Linked DNA regions of Homo sapiens: all the other regions are linked to region 1. Evidence: fine-mapped expression QTL. A gene starts in region 1. Each other region holds a variant in brackets. All regions are shown on one strand. Distances are from middle to middle.

The links. PIP is the estimated chance that this variant, and not a neighbour inherited with it, causes the effect.
Region 2: its variant is the best candidate, but not a certain one, in a credible set for the expression of ME1 in whole blood (INTERVAL, PIP 0.50).
Region 3: its variant is the best candidate, but not a certain one, in a credible set for the expression of ME1 in whole blood (TOPMed, PIP 0.78).
Region 4: its variant is the best candidate, but not a certain one, in a credible set for the expression of ME1 in whole blood (TOPMed, PIP 0.77).
Region 5: its variant is the best candidate, but not a certain one, in a credible set for the expression of ME1 in whole blood (TOPMed, PIP 0.90).

The regions. Positions count from the first base shown.
Region 1 is chr6:83,429,109-83,434,217 of GRCh38, reverse strand. It overlaps ME1 (malic enzyme 1), which reads left to right and starts at 3,167. Exons shown (of 14, transcript NM_002395.6): 1 at 3,167-3,341. The coding sequence starts at 3,264. RefSeq lists enhancers at 1,752-2,951, 2,894-3,063, 3,684-3,953 and a silencer at 3,274-3,463.
Region 2 is chr6:83,594,964-83,600,072 of GRCh38, reverse strand. The region is part of intron 16 of SNAP91 (synaptosome associated protein 91); the gene reads left to right. Among named protein-coding and RNA genes, the nearest start is that of PRSS35, 85 kb to the right of the region's middle. The variant A/G (reference allele first, on the strand shown) is at 2,464.
Region 3 is chr6:83,456,176-83,461,284 of GRCh38, reverse strand. No RefSeq gene overlaps it. Among named protein-coding and RNA genes, the nearest start is that of ME1, 28 kb to the right of the region's middle. The variant C/T (reference allele first, on the strand shown) is at 2,900.
Region 4 is chr6:83,464,980-83,470,088 of GRCh38, reverse strand. No RefSeq gene overlaps it. Among named protein-coding and RNA genes, the nearest start is that of ME1, 36 kb to the right of the region's middle. The variant G/A (reference allele first, on the strand shown) is at 2,095.
Region 5 is chr6:83,582,457-83,587,565 of GRCh38, reverse strand. The region is part of intron 22 of SNAP91 (synaptosome associated protein 91); the gene reads left to right. Among named protein-coding and RNA genes, the nearest start is that of PRSS35, 72 kb to the right of the region's middle. The variant A/G (reference allele first, on the strand shown) is at 2,799.

The DNA of each region.
Region 1 (5,109 bases):
TTTAAATGCAGTTTTACTAATTTAGAATTTTATTCCATATGCCATGTTATCAACTGGGATGTGAACTTTTAACAAAATGGTTTGAGGAATGAAACAACTGGGTTGACTATCTGAGAAGAAGGAAAAGAATCAGTGCTTTGTAAAGAAAATCAGTATGTTGCATGCATTTACGGTTATAAATAGCTATATATGTGAAACTAATAAGGTAGTATAACTTGAGTTACTCTGCGATTCATGTAACAACATCTGTATGAACATTACAATAACACAGGTATGTATATTTGATCTTTATTTATTTAAAACATTTAATTAAGGGCCCAAATGCATTGGATTAGACTTGTGCTCTCTAATTCGATGGTCACTGGCATGTTACTAAGCATTTGAAATGTGGCCAGTGCAAATGAGATACTCAGTTTAAATTGTATTTGATTTTAATTTAAATATAAAACAGATACTCAATTTAGTCATTGGAAAACTTTAAGGTATATTTGCAACAAGTTAGGTATGAGAGTCTACTATTGCAAATGTAAGTTTTATAAAATTGAAATACAGATCAAATTTCTGATAAAAATTTGGTGTCTAAATTGAGATGTGTTATAAAATGCACACTAGATTTTGAAGACATAGTAGTAGTGTGCTTTTTGTGTGAAGAAATACAGAATCATTTAGTTAATATTATAAATCCTCACCTAGATATGTATTTTTTCTATTAATCTTTTTTATCTCATGAAAGTAAAATATTAGAATTGCTGTATGTACTAAGAGTTATTTCCTGAATTTTCTATACTTGCAATCTCAACTGACATTACATCAGAGTATCTATTACAATCATATTTTATGTTGTAAAAGCTCTTTGTGTGCTAAACTATAACTTGGGAAAGAAAAATCTGATTTTGACTGATGGCATTCTCACCTGTGTATAACAGAAATCTATGTTTTAGTCTCTTAATTTGTGAATGATACCCATTCTTAACATTACCAATTGCTTTCAGAGTGACAGTGCAACCACAGTTTGTTACAAGGCAAATTAAAGCAGTTTTTTTCTCTGCATCTGTTTTCCTACGTTTTTGGAAATAAAACCTAACCTTATGAGATTATTATTTAAAAAAGACTGAAAATTTTGATATTCTAGCTAACATTTATGTAGAAAAATAGGTTCTTTCTAGTATTCTTGGAACTACATATGAATGTACTAAATGGCTTCTTCAGCTAGGCCTTATCCTGTTTCATTCAAGATGACGGCGGTTATTTTAATAATTAAAATAAACATACAGATGAAAGATGTGAACTTTACCTACTACTGGCAGGATATTGTAATCCCCTTGTAATGTTGCCTTTGAGGGAGAGGCCATATACTCTTTGTGGGTTACTCCCTGTACTTATAACACTTTTCCTATCTGTAGATATTAAATCTCAGAAACAGGAACAGGTAGGTAGTATATCTAAATTCATGTAATAAGTACTTTATTATAATAAGGGTCTGTTGTACTAACATTTTTGTTTCTTCTTAAGCAGCTTGAATTGGCTCCCATGCCAGCTGTTAAACTGTTTCCTCTCACATAAAACACCCTAACTGTAATGTGTCTCAGTTAATTCAGGAGAGTGAGTTGTGTAAAGTACACCTTTTTCTTAGATGTTGTAGGATTGAGTATTTATGGAGTATAGAATTAACAATGAAAGGTGTCATTTAACTTCAAGGATTTTTTTCAAAAAGAACTTTGTGATGCCTAGAAAATATTCTCTATAAAAACAACGAATTCTAGATAATTCAGGCGAGGTCAAAGAAGCTTCTAAATGTAAATACGGACAAAATACAATTACTGTAAGAAATCTTTCTGATAAGGCAAAGTTAACATAACTAGAAATGAAAACACTGTGATTGGATGTGTGTCTAGTATATGGAGATATAAAATCAGCAAATAATCTCAAACACTATCCTTTGTAATATCAGTATGCAGAGACAAATGGGACAGAAACTAGCAATCCTATTTAACTGAAAAGGAAACTGGGGCACAGAAGGCTTTAGTGTCTGTTGCTATTAATTTATTTTTATCAGACAGGCACTCCTTTTGGCTATGATCTGACTATTCCTCCAGTCCATGAACCTCCAAGCATAAATATCAATAAAACAATAAAAAAATGGCCCGGCGCGGTGGCTCACACCTATAATCCCAGCACTTTGGAAGGCGGAGGCGGGCGGATCACCTGAGGTTGGGAGGAAGGCCTGAAAGACTGCTTACTCATCATTATTCAGAGAGAGCAGTGGTTCTTGAACATCAGGTTTCTAGAACTCCCAGAGAAATAATATACAAGATAAACAGGACTGTTCATTGGGCCTTTGCACCCTAACACCTTGACTCTTATCTTATTGACATTCAAATACAATTCCGGTGGAAAATCTGTAGAAACTGACAGGTGTGGCGCCTGAGCTCTCCTCTCTGGGCTTCCTCCCAGTTCCCTTGGGCCTCGGCATTCTGGGTCAAGGTTGGTTCCCTCCGGCCTCAGGGCCCCGGGCATGGCCGGCATCCTGGATGGCACGGCGAAGGTTGTGGATCTGTAGAAAGAGGGCTTCCAAGACGCTAACAAGACAGGAGAGACGAGTCTGATTCTCCTCAGCCTGTCGAGGTGTTCTGTCAACAGTTCTGGGGACCCCTCACGAGTCCTTCCGTCCTGTAATCCCCCTAGGTGTCTGAGCGACCGCCGGCTCTGCCTGAACCGCTCAGGTTCGCACCTTCTGGCATCTTCTCGCACTTTCTCCAGCCTTCCCGGGCAGGGGGATCCTGGCCTGACGCTCCCCGCTCCCTGCCCCCGCCCTGGGTCTCTGGGGTCAGCAGAGCCACCCAGTGCACTGCGTTTAGGCATGCCCACATGGAGAGAGGCGACCACAGCGGTGATCATAAGCCCATGGTGGGCAGAGGCCCTATGGAGCCAAGGGCTCCGGCCGCCACCCCCGCTCCGCCACCAGCAGCGCTGCCAGGACTCGCTCTTCCTCCTCCTCCTCACACGCCGGCTCGGATGATCTCCTGCCATGACTCAGCGCTTCTCGCAGGCTGCCCTGCTGGGGACACCGGCTTCGCTCGGGCCCCTCCCGACGCGTCCACCCCCTCTCGCCACCCACGCCCGCCCCCAGCCGCTGGGCCTTTCCCAGTGCGGCCGCCGCCGCCACAGCTGCAGTCAGCACCGTCACCCCAGCAGCATCCGCCGCCTGCACCGCGCGTGCGGCCCGCCCCGGCCTGACCCCGCCGCCGAACCCGGCGCCAGCCATGGAGCCCGAAGCCCCCCGTCGCCGCCACACCCATCAGCGCGGCTACCTGCTGACACGGAACCCTCACCTCAACAAGGTAAACCCGCAGGCCCACCTGGCCGCCCATCGGCCCCTCTCTATCAGGGTCAGGGCCCTCTTGCAGGTCCCCGCACCATGGCCTCGCCCCTCCGCCGCTCCCCTGGGAAGGTTCCCGGTGAGCGGCCGCGGCCTGGGGGGCCTTGGTGTGGGCAGAAGGAAGAAGGACGCCTAATCGGGTCCGTATCCACTAGAGTGATGGCAGGGCAGTGCTGGTGCCTCTGCACCTCGGCATCCCATGTTAGGGATAGAGGTAAAGGTAAAGGTTAGTGATAGAGGAAAAGGTGATACTTTTCGGCAGCTCTTCTCCAAAAACAAGAGCCCAGACAATGAAAGTAGTATCAGACAAAGTGTGTGAATGGAGTGCCAGGTCAGACTCCATGTGCCACTCACTTACTGGTTGCACACACAGTGTGGCAATTATTGGAAGTTGATAAGGCGAGAAGTGGCTCAACTGGTCCTGCCCAGACAGAAACGTGTACTGAGTGCCTTCAGATCACGTTAGCAATCTGGAAATCCAAGTCCTCTCGGTTTCTGGAGTGACACGGTTAAGAGTCTGGGAATGCGTGGTGGGTGGCCTCTGTCTTGGACACTTTGCATGGCTTGGTAGAAGAACTCTGTCCCAGACATGGGACTGTGGGTAAAGCCATTTCTTTTCTTTCTTTCTTTTGTTTTGTTTTGTTTTGTTTTGTTTTTAATTTGGCTTTCTGGAAGTTAAAAAAAAATTTTGTTTAGAGCTGCTCTCTTTTTATTAAAGGGGAATTCAGTGTACACCCTGTTCAGAGACTCCTTTTCGGATCCTGGTAACATTTCATTTTCCTTCACTGGTGATGCAATATAAGCACTCGGGATGTCTCTCAAATAAAAAATACCTCCGAATTTATCATTTTGCTTCCACACTTATTTTACAGCCAGGTTTGTCTCGGGATTGTTCCTTTTGTGTGTGTGTGTGCGTGCGCTTTGGACATTTCCTATTTATTCAGGAGTCTGAAAATGCCATCAGTCAGCACAGAGGTTTGTTTAGTTATTTTGGTTGTCTCTTTGGTGGACTGCATTTCACATTAAGAACAGAAGCTCAGCTTTTTCCTTGTCGTGTTCCTGATGATTTGTTGATCATATTAATGACTTAAAGACATGATTTATTTAACAAGTTATAGTCAGTGTGAGTGATTTTTTTTGTGTGTGTGGTGACAGGCACCTTTTACAAATCTATGACTGTGTGCTATCTGCCGTCATGTAGCATTATTAAATTGTAAATAATTCCAACTTATTTCTTTCTTTAAAATAAATTTAATTGCTAGTTTGATTGTTTTTTCTTTTCTTTTATTATTCTGCAGGTTTGCCACCTATTTTCAGTAGAACAAAAGTAAAATTTGATGTGACAAAACTATTTGTGACTTGTATGTGTCACCTGCCTACTGTAATTTATGACCAAGTTGTGGGTTGACACTTAAGAAGGACCACATGAGTTGTATAACCTGTTTGATTTTCCTCAAGTTGGGGGCAAGAGTGTCTATTAAGAGTATGTAGATGGCATGAGCAATCCCTGAGCAAGAGTAATTATTGCCTTTACTATGCTTACATCAAGAATTTATTATTATTATTATTATTATTTGAGACGGAGTCGCGCTCTGTCGCCCAGGTTGGAGTGCAGTGGCGCGATCTCCGCTCACTGCAAGCTCCACCTCCTGGGTTCACGCCATTCTCCTGCCTCAGCCTCCCGAGTAGCTGAGACTACAAGCGCCCGCCACCATGCCCGGCAAATTTTT
Region 2 (5,109 bases), 170 kb before region 1:
GTGGCTCACATCTGTAATACTAGTACTTTGGGAGGCCAAGATGGAGAATTGCTTGAGCTCAGGAGTTTGAGACCAGCCTGGGCAATATAGTGAGACCTTGTCTCTGCAAAATAATTAAAAGCTAGCCAGTTGTGGTGGCAAGCACCTGTAGTCCAAGCTACTTGGGAGGCTGAGGCAGGAGGATTGCTTGAGCCCAGGAAGTGGAGGTTACAGTGAGCCTGATCACGCCACTGCACTTTAGCCTAGGTGAAGAGCAAGGCCCTGTCTCAAAAATAAAATTAAATTAAAAAGAGCCACCCACTATAGAGGGTTAGGTTTTCATTTATGCCCCTATATCCTTTGAAACCAAAAATTTAAATTTTAGCTTACATTTATAAAATCAACTTCCTCTTCCTTCCACAAATCTAAATCAGGTGGTAAATAGAGTTTGTCAAAGTTGTTTAGGCCTGACTAAAGGTAAGCCTCTTGACCTCCTTTGGCCTCAGTTCTCCCATCTATACAATTGGAAACTTGGTCTAGAAGATCTCTAAAGTCCTTCTAGCTTGAAAGTTCCATAATAATAATAGGTAATACACTTAGTAAATGTTTTAATTTAAAATCTATCCTTCCCCCACCCTCTGTTATTGATGTAGCTATGGGTAGTTTCTCATAGGCTTGTGTTAACAGAAAAAAAGTAAGGAAAATATGGACAGGATGCATAATAATTTTGTGCTGAAACATTTCTACGCCTTAGCTGTTTAGATTTTTTGTTTCCAGTCCACTTATAAGGAGTTGATTACCTCAAAGAAATCAATCAACTCTATCTTACTTCCTGCATAGCCCTCTAGAATAATAAAGACTAAGATATTTCTTTGAAATATTCTTCATGCCATTATGCTGTTTTTGTTTGTCATTTATTTCTGTTTTGACTATATTCATCAAGTGGAAAAATCTGTATGTTTAGAAAATTTTCATGATGGCATTCTTTGTAGCTTTAAATATAAGCTTAAAGGATGAGTACTGCAGAGAATCATGCAACTTAATGTCAAAGAATGAGACTGTTCTTGTGATTTTATCAATATCCTTTCCAGTCATCTGGCTGAGAAATGAGTGTACAATGACAATTACATCTGAAAATCACATCATAATTATTTTATTGATCTGTTTAGTTCTATAAATTGTCTCCTGGCTTCTGATAGCTATACAATTTCCATCCTTTATGTTCAGGAGTCTATATATGTCATTATCTGTTTTGTGATTTTCAGTGATTTTCTGTAATTTCTTTCATGCCTTCATTGGTTTTTAAGAAATTATTCAGAGATTTAATTTTTAATAAAAACCTAAGCTAAAATCTCTTTGGCCATTTTGTGTGGCCATTTTTTAAATATTTTGTCTCTCTACAATGGGTAAGTGGTAGAACTCTAGAATAATCAGAAAACCAGTTATGTTTTGTTTAACACAGCATAACTTTACAACTTTAAAACATGCCTTTTTGAGGTCCTATGCAATATGTACAGCAACTAAGTAGATTTCTTTAGAAATAAAGCTTAATGGATTTTAATTTCAGAAGGATGGCTATTTAATTTCATCCCTATCAAATATTAAAACTGTTAATGTATTTTAGTACTATATTTAAATTACACATTTTAAAAATAGTAAATTTTTGTGATTTTTAACAGAAATATTCTTATTGATACACAAGTAATGTTTTAGTCCTTTCAATGTAGGTAGTTCATGTAAGTCATTAAAAAATTTTTGTCAGCTACATTTATTAAATGCTTCATTTTTTAAAGTGAACTTTTAAGAAATGAGATCTTCTTTTTATGATCATGCAGAACAGGATTGCAAGGGCAGTGTTACGCCTTTAAAATTTAGTAAAATTTATAAATATTGACAAAAATAAAAGGCAAAATCCTTAAAAATAACCTATTTTTATACTGATGCAAATTTTACTGACAATAGCACATTGATTTGAACAACACAGGGTTTTTCTAAATACTAGAATGCTAAATTGATGCTAATTCCTCTGCACACCAACAAGGATACCCTTTCAATCAAATGTGTCAATTTGTGAGCAAACCTTCATAAGGTTAGTAGTCTGCAAACATTAAACCAAAGTGACTGGAAAACCAAAGAACTTACCTCACAAGCCTGATCACATTGGGTACATGTTGGTCAAAAAACTAAGTTAACCAACCTTCCTTAAAACCAATAATTAAACACTTTCAACTAGATTTCATGTTAGAGCCTTATAACCTGGGACCTTTGGAGACAAAGAGGAACCAGAATGTGACATTTGGGCTGTTGAGAACAATTGGAACCTTTGTGCTGAGTGTGTGATTTAAGATGGCTTATGTGGCCAAAGTAGATGGGGAGAGAGAATAGGTCAGGCTGAGGGAAACAACAGCTCTTAGATTTGAGAGAGGTAGTCATATGATAAAAAGTTTGAGAGGAAAATTCTGTCTTAGAGTGCTGGAAGGGGAA[A/G]AAAGACTAGTCTGCAGCAGTCAGCTCAGTTTATGGATTAAGGCCTAGACTGAGTCCATAATTGAAGAACAGCAGGAGCACGCATTTCTAGGAAATAGAGCTGGTTGAAAAACTGACAGAATGTAGAAATTAACTGCAAATGGGTAACATGAAAAGGAGAGCTGAACTGGAAATAACTTTAGTTTGCAATACTGGAAAGATAATGCTGCCATTTATAATGAAAAAAACTAGATATTTAAAAAAGTTTTGTTTATTTTTTAACAAATTCAAATTTTATCTCTCACAGTTCTGGTGGCTGACTGAGCTCAGCTGGGCAGTTCTCACTCAAGGTCTCTTTTGTGGCTGCAGTCAGACAGTGATTGGGCCTGGTACCATCTGGACACTCATTCATGTCTCCTTCGGGGCTAGGAAGATTCAAACAGCTGGGGGTGGGAGCAGCTGCAGCTCCTACCTTTAAGAAAATTTCTGACAGGTGTAGATGAGTTAAGTTGATAATATTTAGTTTCAAGTAACAAGAGAAGAATTAAAAGGAGATATCTTGCTGACAAGGGGATTTTTTAAAACCCTCTTCTAAGGATGTAGCTATAACAATATGGGCTTTATCTCCTTACACATAAGTGATAACCTAAAGGGGTCAGCCCATAAATATCTATTTGATCCCTGGCACTAATGTAACTGATGTTTATTCAATTATAAAGAAGGGAGTAATATAATAGAATGAGGCATATTTCATAAAAAATGCAGTACAGTGGCTAAACACATAAAGCTCAGACAGCTCTGAGCCAAATCCTAACTCTGCCATTTTCTTGCTGTGTAACTTTAGTCATCAGACTTTTTAAAAAAAAAATCTTTAATTGAAAAAGTATATACATATATATATAATGTACAACATGATGTTTTGAAGTGTGTATACATTGTGGAATGGCTAATTGAGCTAATCAACATAGATGCATTACCTCACTTATTGTTTGTGATGAGAACACACACGCTTTAAGCTTTGGTTGTGTTATCTACAGACTGGAGACAGTAGAACCTAAATCACAAGATTGTTACAGATAAATTTAATAATGGCAATATATATGACTGCTATGTGTTTCTACTCTTTGCAATATTATTGGCCTCAGTTCCAAATTTTATAGGAACCAAAAAAAAATAAAACAACTGACCTGACTCATGGCAAAATATTTACAGCCCTCCCAACATCTTTTCATACTTCTCTTACATTCTTCTGCCCTGCTTGTAGAGGGTGTGTTGCTCTAAGTCCTGAAGTATAGTATCTTTAACATGGCATTTAGAAAGTAGGCCTACTCTATCCCTTGATGTATTCTTCATTCTTTAGTTTTATTTATTTGGCCTCTCAGCTGACCTGACACTCAAAACCTATATTCCTGGCTGGGCATAGTGCTGTAGGCCTGTAATCCCAGTCCGTGAGGAGGCTGAGGCCAGAGGCTCACTTGAGACCAGTAGTTCAAAGCTATAGTGAGCTATGATATTGCCACTGCACTCCAGCCTGGGCAACAGAGCAAGACTCTGTCTCTAATAATAAATAAATTGAACATATATTTCCTCAGTATAACAAAGAGGAACAATCAGATCAGATTAATCCATAAGATATGAATAACTGATGTCCTGTTGTCCCTTCTAAGGGATATTTGTGATTTGGTAAAGGGCCTTTTAACCCAAGTAAGTATCTAGTTTAATGTTTGTTATTCCACATAAAACTAGAACTCTGCATTACTAAAGAGTGTTTCATACTCAGTTTGGGACATGCCAGGTCAAACTGAGAAACAAGTATCTTGACAGTAGCATGTCCTAGAGCCTAATATACTAAGTAAATCACCAAGGAAGAGCATGTACTGTGTAGCCCTTCCCAAGTATATATGACATGTTATTTTCATGACTGAAGGAACAGTGTTCCAGGAAACATGAGTAGATATTGCGGAAGACAGTATTTGGGGATGGAAAGTCTAGCAGGTAAGTGACAGGTTCTAGGTGGGTGCTGGTCTCCACTCTCCAGGGTTTTCTTCTCCTAAGCCTGTCATGTTTATCATGGCTTGATTCCTTCTGTACTTTTGAAACTATAGCATCTCTATGCAAGCTCAAAGACTTCTTACCTTAACTAACATTGTTGGTAGAAACACACTGGGAAGCATCTGTACACATCAGCCATTTGTAAAATGGGCATTTATAAACTGTGGCTGCTCGTATGTTAATGATATTCTATAAATAATAATACACTTATAGTCTTAAAATGTGAAAATATTGTTTTAACCTGTTGAAAATAGATTATTTTCCAAATAACTAGAAAAATATAATTGCATTATGGTATCATACCCTATTTTTATCTCTTTATGTCTTTAAAATAACTTATTGGTTATGTTTGAAAATGCTTTTCAAGGATAGTGAAGACTTAACACTTAGGAATGCTTAGTAAACTTAGTAAGAGTGTTTCATACTCTCATACTTAGTAAACCTTAGTAAACTTAACACTTAGGAATGCTTAGTAAACCTTAGTAAAATTATTGGTTATGTTTGAAAATGCTTTTCAGGGATAGTGAAGACTTAACACTTAGGAATGCTTAGTAAACCTTTCATGTTAACACTGTAATTTTGCCTGTACTAGATTATAAAAAATCTTAAAACTAG
Region 3 (5,109 bases), 27 kb before region 1:
ATTGGATTAGAGGTCCACTCCACATTAGTATGACTTCATCTTAACTAATTACATCTGTAATGACCCTGTATTAGGCTGTTTTTACATTGCTATATAGGAATACCTGAGGCTGGGTAATTTGTAAAGAAAAGAGGTTTATTTAGCTCACAGTTCTGCAAGCTATGTAAGAAGTGTGGCACGGGCATCTGCTTCTTGTGAGGACCTCAAGAAGTTCACAATGACTGGGGAAGGCAAAAGGGAGCAGGAAGTGTCACATGGCAAGAGAAGGAGTGAGGAGGGAGAGGTGCCACATTCTTTTAAACAACCAGATCCTGCATGTATAGAACAAGAACTCACTCATTATTTCGAGGATGGCACCAAGTCATTCATGAGGGATCTGTCCCCTTGAGACAAACACTTCCCACCAGGCCCCACCTCTAACACTGAGGATCATATTTCAACATGAGATTTGGATGGGACAAACATACAAACCATATCAGAACCTATTTTGAAATGAGGTCTTATTTTGAGGTACTGGGAGTTAGGATTTTAACCCATCTTTTTTGGGTAGGGACACAATTCTTAATACTTTCTTTATATTCTATAACTATAATAAGAAAAATTTTAAAAAGTAGTAGGGGTGCTAAATATTGAATTGATATAATATTTAACCTAACTTTTTAATATCAGATTTTATGTTTGAAATTGGTATACTTTCTTTCTAATTATATGTGATCATTACCATTGGTGGGAAATGTTCATATGAGTAGGTAGTTTAAAAAGTGAGAATATTTTTTATAACTACTTAACAATTTATGACAGTTGGAATTATATCTAAAGAATCTATCATCCCTTTTTTTCAGTGACAAATGTAATAGTAAATTTCTTGCAAAGATGATGATTTTGAATACAATCAAATTTTCTCTTGATGAACAAACACATTATTAGGATAGTCATACTATAGCTAGAAAGAACACTACTAAAATTGTAGTCAGCACAAATTTTATATATTTCTTTATTTCTAAACATTGTGCCATAAGAAATAAACACTAATATATTTGAAGACAGAATTTTATCCTGCTTGCAGCTCCAATAGGAAAGAACCCCTACCTGGCTTCCCCTGCACAGGCAGTTGTATCTTGAGCTGTGCACTCTCCTCTTTGGGCTACCAAAGTTGATGTCCAACTTGGCCTCTCCCAGATCTACTCAATAGAACAGTGAGTGCCATATGATGCTGGGACGGAGGGAGGCACACTTTCAGATCCACTTTTCTTGGATGACCATCACAGGAACACAAAATAAAAATGCTTCTAATGATAGCAATCAGCTATAAGGTTCTGTACTTCCAGGTCCCACATGGGTGAAACAATATCTCTTTGTTTCCTGTTTGTTGGGAAGCTCTGAGATAGAGGAAGTGGAGTCCTTAAAAGAGAAACAGATTAAGCAAGAGAAAAAAAAAAATAAATGAGTGTAGTGTCCCAGAAACTAAGCAAGGGTGTGGTCCACAAAGTCAAGTGCTGATGATAGTCTGGGTAGATAAGGACTGAAAGGGTCCCACAAAGAGGTTACTGGAGACCTTGTTGAGAGTAGTTTTAGTCAAGTGGTAGGAGCCCAAGCACAAGTTTCCATGGGTTGGAACTGGAAATCAGAATGGCAGTGAGAAGTGGGGACAGTGGAGGCAAACAACTGTTCTGTAAGCTTGGATTGCTACTCCGTGTCTCTAAGTTTCCTAGTTTTTTGTTTTGTTTTCTTTTGGTAAAATAGGGCATATATGAACACCAACCTCATAGGATTTTTGGGAGGATTAAAAGAATTAACATGAAAGCTTTCTGAAAATTATAAATCACCAGAAATGTATAAATACAGCCAATTATTATCAGGGATTTTAATGAAAATTTGTGATTCTTCTTGTACCATCCCCTCTCCCCAAAGAACCATCTCTTTTAAGTCTGGTTAAAAAAAAAAAAAAAAGTAGTTAAACCAGGAAATAGAGCTAAACGGTGGCCAAAATTTTTGATCCTCTTTTGTGCTCAGATGATAATGGAAGTAAATCCCCCGGGATGCCACTAAGAAAGAGAAGAAAATCACCCTGAAGAGCTGTCTCTCTACAAACTGTTGGATTTACTCTCTGTGAAGAACGTATGTTTTATTAACAGTGATTTAACTTTGGGAAAATTCTGAGAAAAAGCTGAAAGACACTATGATTAATTCCTTGAATTTGCAGAGAATATAAATTCTAGGAAGACCTGAGAGTATAGATTTGGAATGTGTGTGGCCTTGGCTGGGCCTGAGAATCATAATGGAAATAGATTGCTATTATAGAAAGACCCATCAGTGAACCTAGCTGGGGTCTTCTGCTATATTCAGCTAGAGGAAGGCCATGTTCCAGAAGAAAGTATTCCTAGACCAAAAAACTTGGCTACCTTTTCCATAATGCATTCACAGCAGAACAGCTAAACCGGGTGATAAATATGTGTGATGCTGAAGTGGTGTCAGGTATAGCTTATGTAATTGCAACTCTACATCCTTAAATCCTGGAATTAGATTTATTTCTGTAATCAAATCATTTCACTTTGCCACATTATTACCTGTATATGATTACTTATGTAGATCATTCAGCTTAAGAAAACATTAAAACTATTTTCAGTATGAATTAAGACTTACACTTTTTTTTTGAGATGGGGTTTAACTCTGTTACCCAGGTTACATTTGATCTCCTAGGCTCAAGTGATCCTCCCACCTCATCCTCCCAAGTAGCTGTGACTACTGCACTCCAGCATGTGCCACTGCACTCGGCTTACACTATTTTGAATTACTATTTTCATTTTCTGAAAACTGGTGTTAAAGCAAAAATTGTACCAGGTGGCTGGGCATGGTGGCTCACGCCTGTAATCCCAGCACTTTGGGAGGCCGAGGCGGG[C/T]GGATCACGAGGTCAGGAGATCAAGACCATCCTGACTAACACGGTGAAACCCCGTGTCTACTAAAAATACAAAAAATTAGCCGGGCGTGCTGGCGGGCACCTGTAGTCCCAGCTACACGGGAGGCTGAGGTAGGAGAATGGCGTGAACCTGGGAGGCAGATCTTGCAGTGAGCCGAGATCTGTTGCCCAACCTGGGCAACAGAGCGAGACTCCGTCTCAAAAAACAAACAACAAAACAAAACAAAACAAACAAACAAACAAACAAAAAACAATTGTACCAGGCAAAGTAAAATAGGCCAGGATGACATTACTCTATTCAAGGCTATTGCAGTAGGGGAGAGAGGCCAGAACAAACTCTGAACTTGACTCCACTGAGGCAGAGGGGGTAGGGTTTTTTAAGGGCTCGGTTGAACTGGTGGACAGTACTGGAGGACATTAGGGGAAAGTCTTAGGCCATCTGTGTTTGCTAATTGGCTTTATCCAAAGTAAAAATAAACTTCTCATATGTTTATGTTAGAAGGTAGTTTTGCAACTTGGAGCAGATGCCCACTAAAGTTAGGCTCCTACTATCCCACAGGAACTAGGAGATAGGAGTACTATATCCTTTGATAACTATATTTCAAAGAAATTGCTCTCAGGTCCTTGAGACAAGATATTCCTGGGTTGTAAAAGTGGCAAGAACTGCTCACTAGTAAAACTACTCACTAGCCACATGTGGCTATTGAGCACTTGAAATGTGGCAAGTGAGACTGTGAAACTGAATTTTTCATTTTTATTGATTGAAATTTAAATAGCCACGTGACTGGTGCCTGCCACACTGGACAATGTAGGCTCAAATTACCTCATCATCATTTGATCTGCAGAAAAACTGCTGCTATTAAATGTAATGTCTATAATCTGGATCATTCTCCAAAGAGAAATTATCACTGGCGATTAGAGACGCTTGTACTCACTTTGGATGGTGGCAGTGAGAATTAAGTTAGATAATGTATATGAAAGTGCCTAGTAAAATGCCTAGTATAAAACAGGCACCAATGATTTTAGTTTAGTTTTCAGTCTCCTTCAGGGGACACAAAATGAATTGTGGAAGAGTGTTCAAAGTCAAGAACATGACAAATAATTGCTGGTATGGGTGTTGCAGGGGCAGAAGTGTTAATATTCCTCATGGTTACATGGTTACAAGATACTCTGGCTGTTTTGTAATCTACATGAAGTTATTTAATCTTGGAAATAAGCACCTTCTTTATGCTTACTCAAATAAAAATGCCAAATTGTAAAACCATAAACATTTGGGTTACTCTCAATACATTTAATAATAATCTATTATTGCATGATGTTATTGATGCATTCTTTTCCTTAGAGGAGTTAAAATAAAAACCTTTATAAAGACTAAGTCAGAACATCTTCTAAAGATTCTTGTGATGTAAAGGCATGATTTTATATATTACATGTGTTCAAAAGAAATTATATCTTCTTCTGACAGTGAATTATATATTTAAAAATGTGGGATATACAGAAGAGAAAAGGAAAAGTAACATATATAATGAAGGAAAGAACAATTTTGGCAAATGTGTTTCAGCAGAATATGAGGATGTTGGCATACTACAATTGGCCTTAGTCTGAAAATAAGCTACTGTAGCTCCAGCCATCAGAAATTCCACATTTTTTAGCTGTGGGTATACAGCTGTGGGCTGGTTTCTCCCAGACACTATATTCTCTCCTATGTCTGACTTGTCTTTTTCTCCACTGTTGGTCACCATCATCTATTTTCAGTTGTTTTCAAAAGTTTTAATTTTCTCCTGGGAATTGCATAGTGATAAGTTTCTCCAAGAGATGCTTAAATTTTTATAACATGATGAGGATGTTTATATGAAAGAATCATTTTGAATGAATTATACTTACTCTCTGATAAGGAGTTTGGGGTGCTGCATTCAACCAAAGGCAGAATAATGGAACTCCTGGTCCTGGATCCCACCATGCTGACACATAAGAATAAATAGATTTTAGTAGTTTATTTCATAATTGGCCTATAATAGGGAGGTATTACATACTGACTTTTTATTCTGAATCTTATGCCAAGGAGATAGGACCCATTACATAATAGCTAGAAAGGTTTTTTTGTTTTGTTTTGTTTCGTTGTTGTTGAAGCAAAATTAAGCAAATTGATTTAAAATTGTTGAGGTTTACACAATGAAGAAGTCATAAGATTA
Region 4 (5,109 bases), 36 kb before region 1:
CAGGCATAAAACGACAAATATTCCATGATTCCATTTATATGAGGTACTTAGAGTAGTGGAATTTATAGAGACACAAAGTAGAATAAAGGTTTCAAAGGACTGCGGTGCAGGGATGAGGATGATAGGGAGTTGTTTAATGTGTATAGGAGTTTCAGTTTTCCAAGATGAAAAGAGTTCTGGAGATTGGCTACACAACAGTGTAAATGGACTTAACACTACTCAACTATATACTTAAAAATGGTTAAAGTGATAAATTTCATGTATATGTTACCAGAATTCAAAACAAAACAAAAAGAGCTTTGGGGGTGATAGAGGGAGGCCAACAAAATATGGGTGGGGAAATAGACAAAATGGATAAAAATTGAGAATAAGCAAGTGCAAAATTTAAACCCTTATAAAATGGTTTCATGTTACTAAACAGGAAAGTTTTACTCCACTAAGTTTTGCTGATACAGACATATCTGTTATGTGTTCCTTTTTTGGTTTCCCAGAAATCTGCTCCAGGGGCAGGAATAAACCTTGTAAATCTTGATCTATTCCCCAGCTGTACCCATGAGGCCATGCTGTATAATGCTTAGAAAGAGACAATGCATTTCAAGAGCAGTGACAAAACATCCCTGGGGCATAGTGGCTCCCTAGCTACTGCAGGACATTGCAGGATTCTCATTGGGAACCACTGGTATAAGATCCTAATAAGCTTTTTCCAGCTGTACTTAAATTGCTAATGAGAGCAGCATAATTATGTCAGCTTGCAAGCTACTCATGCAATTTGAGAAATCTGGAAAGATGGTGGCAGTTGTCGATGCACAAAGTAATACCTTTAATGCTAGAATTACGTTGTCTAACATGCAATCATCTTCGACATCACCAGAAACCAAGTCATTGCTGGCGTAACATAACAGAAAAGTGAGAAATACAAAATCCTTACAAAATTGTTTTATTTTCTGAATAGGTTGATATTTCATTTGGATTTTACTGATGTTTATGCCATCTGCCATTTTCTCACATTTTAAAAACATCCGTAATGTTCTCCACATTTTCTATCTTATTTTATAAATAAGATAGTATGCAATCATTCTAATTACATAATATTTACTTTTAAACTAATTAATTACATTTTATAAGTAGATGCTATCAGTAATGATTTCTTACTGACAATAATTATTATCTTTATAAAAATCACAATAATTGTTAGCATTTATGAAGAGTCTAAAAGAGGTGACAAAGCTCAAATTCCTACTACATCCTCAGAGTTGTTGCTATAGTATGTTGTTTTTCTTAGAATGTTATTCCCATTGTTTTAAAAGTTCTTTATCATTATACCAACAAGAGAAATATAATCCCATTTAGCAGAAATTAGATAATTCTAGATAAAATTTTTTATATAAAACACAAAACCTAGTTTTAGGCACTTGTCTTTAAAAGAGACAAATATATTTGGGCATGTAGAGATAGTAGCAACTACTTTGGAAAAATCTAGAAAACTTTTGTGTGATACATGATTAACAAGCCTAAGAATACTAACTTAGAGGAATTTTCAGACACAGTGTATCCTTGTTAAAATATTTGAAGGGTTATCAGGTAAAAGATAAATTATATTTCTATGGCACCAACAGGTAGAAATATGACCACGAGATAGAAATTAGAGTGGAGGCACATTTGCTAATATAAAGTCAGTAGTTCCTATGGCTAGGTAGAAATTTTAAAATTACATATTAAGGTCTGCAAAATGTAATTTTATTTCTTATAAGTCTATCAGATTTTATCTCAAGTGCCCAATTGTAGGAAAAAAGCTATTCGGTGTAAACTAGGTCAGTTCAAGATTCTCCCCCTCCACATTCTCCCAGGTTTGATTCTGAAAACAATAACTGTGCCCTGTGTTACAGAAGGAATCTTAAGGTGGCCCCTATAATCCCTGCCTCCTGATATTCATGCCTTCTGTGGTCGCTTCCCATTGAGTGTGGGCAGAACCTATGACTTGCTTTGAACCAATAGGTTATGGCAAAAGTGATGGGATTTTAATGATTCCATGTATTCAATTGTATGTGTGTGATTATGTTACATAAGACTGTGGTGCCGACTTCTTCCTCTCTT[G/A]TTGGTTTGAGGAAGCAAGCAGCCATGTTGGGGAACTGCACATGGTGAGTGGGCAGCCCTCTGGCTGAGGATGGCTTCCAGCCAACAGTCAGCCAGCAAAAGAGGCTACTACCACAAAAGAGAAGTTCTACAGCTGCAAAAGAAATAAAATTTACCAACAACCTGAGTGAACTTGGAAGTGGGTCCTCCCCAAGTCAGGCTTCAGATGAGATCATAGCCTCAGCAGTCTTTTTGTTTTGTTTTTGAGATAAGGTCTTGCTCTGTCACCAAGGCTAGAGTGCAGTGGCACAATCACGGCTCACTTGCAGCCTCAATGTCCTGGACTCAAGTGATCTTCCCACCTTAGCCTCCCGAGTAGCTGGGACTACATGTGCAAACCACCATGCATGACTGATTTTTAAAATTGTTTTGTAGAGACGAGGTCTTGCTATGTTGCCATGGCTGATCTTCAACTCCTGGCCTCAAGTGATCCTCCCACCTCAGCCTCCCAAAGTGCTGGGACTATAGGCACAGCCACTATGCCTGGCCTGGCTGCAGTCTTATAAGACTCTAAGCAGAGGTACTTAGCTAAGCCTACCTGGCATTCCCTACCCATAGAAACTATGAGATTAATAAATGTGTGTTATTTTAAATGGCAAAGTTTGTAATAATATTATTATGCAGAAGTTGTTAACTAATTCACCTTGACATCAGTGGAAAGGGAGCACATAATCCTTGGTCCTCATCTGTCTTATTCCTTCCTTTGTTCCTCCATTCTTTAAACAAGTATTTATTGAGTGCCTATATGTCAGACATACATCACAGAACAAAGTTGGCAAAAATCCTTGCCCTCCTAAGGCTTTCCACTCTTGTTATATGGTGTTGAGGTCTTCAGTTTTCAGGCCAATCCAGTCCTCAAGGATAGTCAGCCTTCCACACTGTCATCGCTGAGGTTTCCACACCAAACCCTTATATCCCAGCCTGAGGATCCCTCAGGTCCTCATGCTGTCAGGGTTGTACCTGGACTATTCTCAGCCAAAGAAGATATCTGGCAATTCCCAGAGCTCCTTGGGCTGTGTAAAACTCTGGAACTGCCTAAGATCTTTGGCCTAACAGTTTGCCCTTTCACAGTCTCTGCTTCATGTTTCCCAGAGTATAACAGCCTGGGAAATGCTTCAGAGAATCTGTTGACTCTCAAGGCTGTGGGAAAACAGCGCAGTGCAATGCCCACAAATTTATCCATCTAATGCCTCCACTATCTTCCTGCGAATTAGATGAAGCCTCACCTCTGAGTCAATGCGGTTATATACAGTATGGCTTGGTGCTTTTGTGGGAAGAAAAAGGGTCTCCTTCCCCCAGCCCAGCAACAGAGTATGGGACTTAGTTAAGGAGGCACAAGTGAGACTCCACCTCTCACTTCCTTCTTGGGCGGGTACATCTGCATGTATGCAAACCATATATGATATATGATGGCTCCTCCTGAGTTCCTCCTACAGCTCCTGAGTTCCTGCTTCAGCCTCTCGAGTAGCTGGGATTACGGGCACGTGCCATTACACCCGGCTAATTTTTGTGTTTTTACTACAGATGGGGTTTCACCATGTTGGGTAAGGGGTAGGGAGCACCAAGGTGAATAGTGTCTGGAGAACAGTTAAAGTCTCACATTCTTTCTTCTCTAATTCCTCCTCAGCTCAGAGGAGGAGAGTAATTTATCCCTTTTATTTGGAATTGCACCAATTTTTTGGCTCTTAGGGCCAATGGATTACTTCAGAATCTTCATGTAGTCAGAGAATGGGAGGAACCAGGGTAGGGAGGAATTGGGTCATTAATTCATCCAGATCCTTCTTGAAGAATTTGACAACCTGAAGTCTTGTGTCACTTGAAGTCACCCTTTTAAAGCACTGGAAGCTTTAGACTGCAATTCTAATGGCCCAAATGGGTGAGAGTCATGGAGTGAGAGGTACAAGGGAGAACTCATCACAGGGTGGCAATAATGTTGTATCTCACTACCATTTATTGATGCCCAGTATTGCCAAATGTTGTTCTAAGCACTTCACATTTAGTACTTACAAAAAGCCCTATAAGGTAAATATTCAGCCACATTTCATAGATGATGAAAGTGTGGCTTACAAGATTAATGTCTCCAATATCACAGCCTTAAAGAAGTAGAAATGAGATCTGAAGCTATAACTACCTAATCCAAAGCTTGTGAGTTAATATTTTTAGCTCTGTTATGTGCCAACCACTGCTGAATATACCAGAACTACATCAGTATTAAAACTACTCTACTACCTTAGAACAGAATATGTCAGAGAGGTAAAAATTCTTGATCACTGGAAGCATTTAGGCAAGACTAGAAGACTGCTTGATTGAATAGTTTCTATTAGACAGTAATGTATGGCATTCATTAAAAAAATAGAAAATTAAAGCTTGAAATAATCATTTAACATAATGATTGGGCTGTGTAAAACTCAGCCCAAGATTCAGAAGTATAATTTTCCTTGGTAATTCTACAAACTCATTATTAAACTTTGGGTGCCCAGTAATAGTTATGAAATGACAATAATGTTAAGACTTCATTATTATTAATAATGCTCAGACTGGGGGTGTGGTTGCACTGTGGCTAAGCACAGAGCCAATGAAAAACATACTTTTCCAAATGAACACCTCTAATATCTGAATAGTGTTGACCAAATTCTAGAATTGTTTGACCTGCTGCAGGATAATATACAATCTCATAAAAAGGACAATTTATTTGATGCTTGAGAAATAGAGATTAGGCATAAGTACACTATGGTCAGATTGCCTGCTGGTTGCTACAGGGCCAGTGTGACACTCTTTGGGGATGTGCCATGAAAGACTTGCTGCAATTATCCGGTAATCATACATGACACAATGTGCCATAGCCTCAGATGGGCCATGGAAGCAGTTCTGTTTAAAGCTCTTCTGCTCCAACCTCTTGTATCCAGAAGTGAGTGACAGCTAAGCGTCACTGAATTTATTACAGTTGTTGAGCAAAAAGGTAGGAATGCACCAGGA
Region 5 (5,109 bases), 150 kb before region 1:
GTGTTTATTTGGGGGAGGGATCAGCTAAGTCCACAGTCTATTGAAACTAAGAAGATTTTTAAAAAAAAATAAATAAATGAGCCTAGTCATACATAGCAAGCCCACAAATATGATCAGAATCAAAGAGAGAGAAGAGAGAAAAAGATTCTCTAGAATCCTGTGATTGCCTTTAGTAATAAAACTGTTTTGAGAAAGAATGAAAAAGAAAAATAATATGCAGACACTGTCATGGGAGGTTTAGACTGTTCAAAGGGAACCTTGGTCACTGGACTAAGGACTCTTACCCCATGCCTAAGATTAGATTTTTTTGAGTGAATACATTTACATGTGAATCATAAAGATAAGGCAATAAATATATGATATAATTAAATTTTAAAATGATTTTAGAGATTTTAAACTAAACATTAAGAACCATTTTAAAATTGAGGCGAAAGCTTTGTTAAAAATTGGTATCATTTTGAAACTTGAAAACAAAGACTAACTAGATAGTCTTGAAAATGAACCTATCTATCATAAAAACTATTCTTCTTTATTCAAATTCAGTTTTAGAACTGTCAGATAATACCAATTCCAGAATTAAACAGCACTTGAAATATTGCCTTAGTCGTCTTCTACCCCTTGAGTAAAAATTTTAAGGTGTTTGGTGCATGCAGTATAGTGAAATGATAAAAAATTCTGGAGAGGACAACTTCCAAAGAGGCCAGACTAGAAAAATCATTATCAAAATAATGAAGAAAGGAAGGAATAATGGGGGTGGGGGGAAGCAGAGGGGAGAATCCATAACAACAATGAGTAATTCTTTCCAAGCCATTGAGATTACTGGTAGGATACAGATATTATCCATATCTCAGGTAACATCTGAATGAAAACTTGAAAGTTAAGTTTTTAAATAATAAAAGTAAATATTTCATACAGTGAAGAGTAAAGCTGTCAAACTCTGCTCAAAATATACCAACTGAAAATACAGATGTTTGAAAGCTAGAGGCAGACTACTGGATGACAAAGGTAAAAATGGACTGTTAAGGAAGTTAGGTGTGTTGAGGAATATGCCTAACATCTGAGGTTGGCATCGAGCAGGACAACCATGTTTTTCCATCATAGACACAATTTTAGGGTGACTGCACTATAAATCTGTACTAGTATAAGAGAATTTCACATCCTATCTTTAATTGCAAAGACAAGGGACTATATGGTCCAGCCTATGAGGCCCTTTGTAGTTTTGCATTTGTTCTCTTAACCACATTAATTGCTTAAAATGAGCCACAGAAGTCCTTGAACTGAATTTAAAATACAAACATGCCCAGTGTGGCATTAAAAAGTAACAATTTCCTATAAAAGGTAAAAGTCTACAGAGGATCAATTCTATCATCCTGTGTGGAAGTGTCTTTAGCAGTAGTTTTAAAATTGCACTCTTGTGGCCGGGCACGGTGGCTCATGCCTATATAATCCCAGCACTTTGTGAGGCCGAGGCGGGCAGATCACAAGGTCAGGAGATCGAGACCATCCTGGCCAACATGGTGAAACCCCATCTCTACTAAAAATACAAAAATTAGCTGGGTGTAGTGACACACGCTGTAATCCCAGCTACTTGGGAGGCTGAGGCAGGAGAATGGCTTGAACCCAGGAGGCAGAGATTGCAGTGAGCCAAGATGGCGCCATTGCACTCCAGCCTGGTGACAGAGCGAGACTCCATCTCAAAAAAAAAAAAAAAAGAAAGAAAAAAAAATTGTACTCCTGCAACTGAAACAATATGATGTGTTAGATAGACTATGTAGACTATGACAGTCAGACTTGATATATCTGAATCAATAGAACTTCATTAAGAGTGTGGGCTACTCCCCTTTAGAATAACACATTCATAAGACTAATCATCTGTGATTAAAAAGCAGTGTATCAACAGATGGTTGAGTACCTGAAAACAGTTGGCTCTTCAGTTATAGTGTAGGACAGTTCAAATATGATTACAGGATGCACAAAAGCCTTACTCTGTTTCCAATTCCATTCCATAGAGCACCTTTCTTTTTTTTTTTTTTTTAAGCAACAAGGTCACCCTCTGTTGCATAGGCTGGAGGGCATTGGTGTGAACATAGCTCACTGCAGCCTTGAACTGATGAGCTAAAGCAATCCTCCCACTTCAGCCTCCTGAGCAGCTGGGACTGCAGGCACATGCCATCATGCCCCCTGGCTAATTTATATATATTGATATATATAGATAGATATATAAAAATGAGGTCTCGCTATATTGACCAAGCTGGTCTCAAACTCCTGGCTTCAAGTGATCCTTCTGCCACAGCCTCCCCAAATGCTGAGATTACTGGCATGAACCACCATACCCAGCTAAACGTCTTTCTTAATGTAAATTAGAACCACATAGAAAGATTAGTTGTTTAGGTTTTCCTATTAACTCTATTCCAGGGCCCTAAAACTTTTCAGTTAGTTACCAGGAGGAATTCCTCAAATGCCTCATGAATGACTGTAATGTTCCTGTTTAGTTCTTCATTATAGCAATTATTTTTTTGAGATAATCAGTTGGTCCTTTTATATCACTTAATAGCTGTTTAATTATTCTAGGCTTGTGAGGGCACTTACTTCATAAGAACCGAGTATAATGGGAAAAAGTCATCCTGCCAGATCTCGACAATTTTATAAATGTATGGGAAGGTTACCACTACAGCATTTTTTCTGGATGTGAGAAAGAGGCTGTGTGGTACAGTGGCAAAGAATCCAGACTCTGGAGAATTCCTGTTTGGAATCCTGGATCTGCCATTTGCTTTCATATGACCTTAGACAAATTATCT[A/G]ACATCTCTGACCTCAGCTTTCTCATCTTTGAACCTCATGGGGTTGTTATAAGGATTAGATAAGCTAATGTGTGTTTTAGATTGAACCATTTAAAACTGCTGATTTTCTAGGATCAAAACAGTCAAATATCAGCCATTCGTGTCGTTCATAGGGTTCACCCTAAAAAAGGAAACCTAGAACAGTGCCTGGCACTTGGTGAGCCCTGGGCCAATGTTGGCTTACCTTTAATTTTCTTAGAGAAGGCACTATTTTTTTTTTTCAGTGAACAGCTTTATTTATTCACCTATAGATGTGATCTTAGCATAAAGTAGAAATAGCACTAAGCAGAGTGTCCTAGGTAAATGCACTCTTTTTCCTCTTTTTACTGAATCTTACCAGTGTGTTAACTTCTCTTTGAGTCATTTCTTCTAGCCATGAGATGACAGGAAGGAATCAGATGATCCTGAGGCCCTTTCCATCACTAATATGCTGTGATTCTAAAATAAATTGTCCTTTCCATGGCCAAGTTTTAAGAAGTCAAGAGTCAAGTTTTCTCCACATTCACCTATAGAAAGAGAATCACAACATAGAACAGTTGCCTAAATTTACCAGACAAATTCCAACTTGAGGTACGGGGTAATGTTTTTTAAAAATCAACATTAATACAGCCACCAATCTTCCTAAAATCAAAATGGTCACATTCACAAAAATAATTACTTTTAACCTACCTTGGCTGGGATAAGCTCTTACTGATTTAGAGAACGTCTTCTTCAGTAAAGAAAGTTATATGATACTTATGCCATTCAAATACTAAAATCACTTAAAGTAGCCATCATGAACTGTAAAGATCATCTAATAAAAAACTTTTTTCCAAATTAAAATTTTTTCATACACATATGAGGAAAGCCTAAACCCACATCACTGTCAATTTCTAGGAATAACATAACTCAAACAGCATTGCCACCTGCTTTAGAAAATAGTAGATAATTTTAGTGGAAATCACTTTCAAAATTATAAATCGATTCTATGGAACGTAAACTTAAGGATGTTTTTTGAAACATTGTTTTTGCAAGCAGTTTGTGAAGAAGAGACAATGTGGCTGGATTTGAAAGGAATATATACTTAAACTTTATGTAGGAATGACTTCTGGTAGTAATAAATTCTTTTATAATAGAATATCATCCAGTGTCTTGTTAAGAAATCACTTCCTTCAGAGGCTGTATATTTTTGTTCAGTAGCAATGCAGAGTGATCTCTGCTTCTGTTTCTGTCTGTTGATTGAGAGAAATGTTTTGCTTCCAGCCGTCAAAGGATAAATACTTAATCTGAGGTTGGATTACTTTACAGTAGTCTTTGATTTGTCCTCACCTTTTATATTCAAAAGTGTCCTTCATTTAATAAACATTAATTCAGTGTTTTAGGCACTGTGCAGGATATTAGTGGAAAAAACATGAAAAGAAGACACAGTTCCTGGCCTCAAAAAGCCATCTGGGGTTGGAGTCGGGGCAGTGGGGATAGATACATGTAATGAGAGTAGCAGGGGGCCATGTACCAGGTGCTGAGGATACTCGGCATGTATATGGGGATGTGGGTGGGGTGCAGCTGGTAGTGGGTAGCAGTGTGAGGGCAAGGAAGTCCTCCCAGAGCAGGCATCTGACACTGCGAGTGGCGGATCACAGCTGCAGCCTGCTTTGCTGCAGGGGCCAGTGAGTAGAGACAGAAGGACCTGATCACTACACGAAGGAATTCAAATTATATGAACTGAAAAATGATGGGAAGCTGATAGAAGATTTTGGAGAAGTAACTTTGTCAACATTTTCCACTTGGAAAGATCATTCTGGCTGCACTGTGAAGACTAGATTGGAGGAGATCTAGACTAGAGACAGGATGCCATCCCACTCCGTGACTGTTCATGAATCCAGAGAGCAGGGTTGCGGGGGCCTGCACTGGTGGTAACAGCAGTGGGGCTAGAACATGTATGATAGATGTTAAAGATTTGATATGTATTTTTATGATTTGTTTTGCATTTTATTATAATTTGCAGTAAACATTTTCTAGAAACCGGATATTATGATTTGAAGAAACATAAAATTTCAATGTAATGAGACTGTCTGAATTGTAAACCTAGTGATACCTTATTTGTTTATATACTCCATTGTAATAATAGATTTGCTTGCCATAGTTTCTCTTAATAAGGTTATACTTGTGTGTTATCTTATTTCTAATTAAATTAAATCTCTCATTAATGCATGTCAGATTTCAAAATATTATGCTTGAACAACTTTTCAGAAATGAGCTTCTCTGTTTCACTGACTGCTAATCAACATGCAAT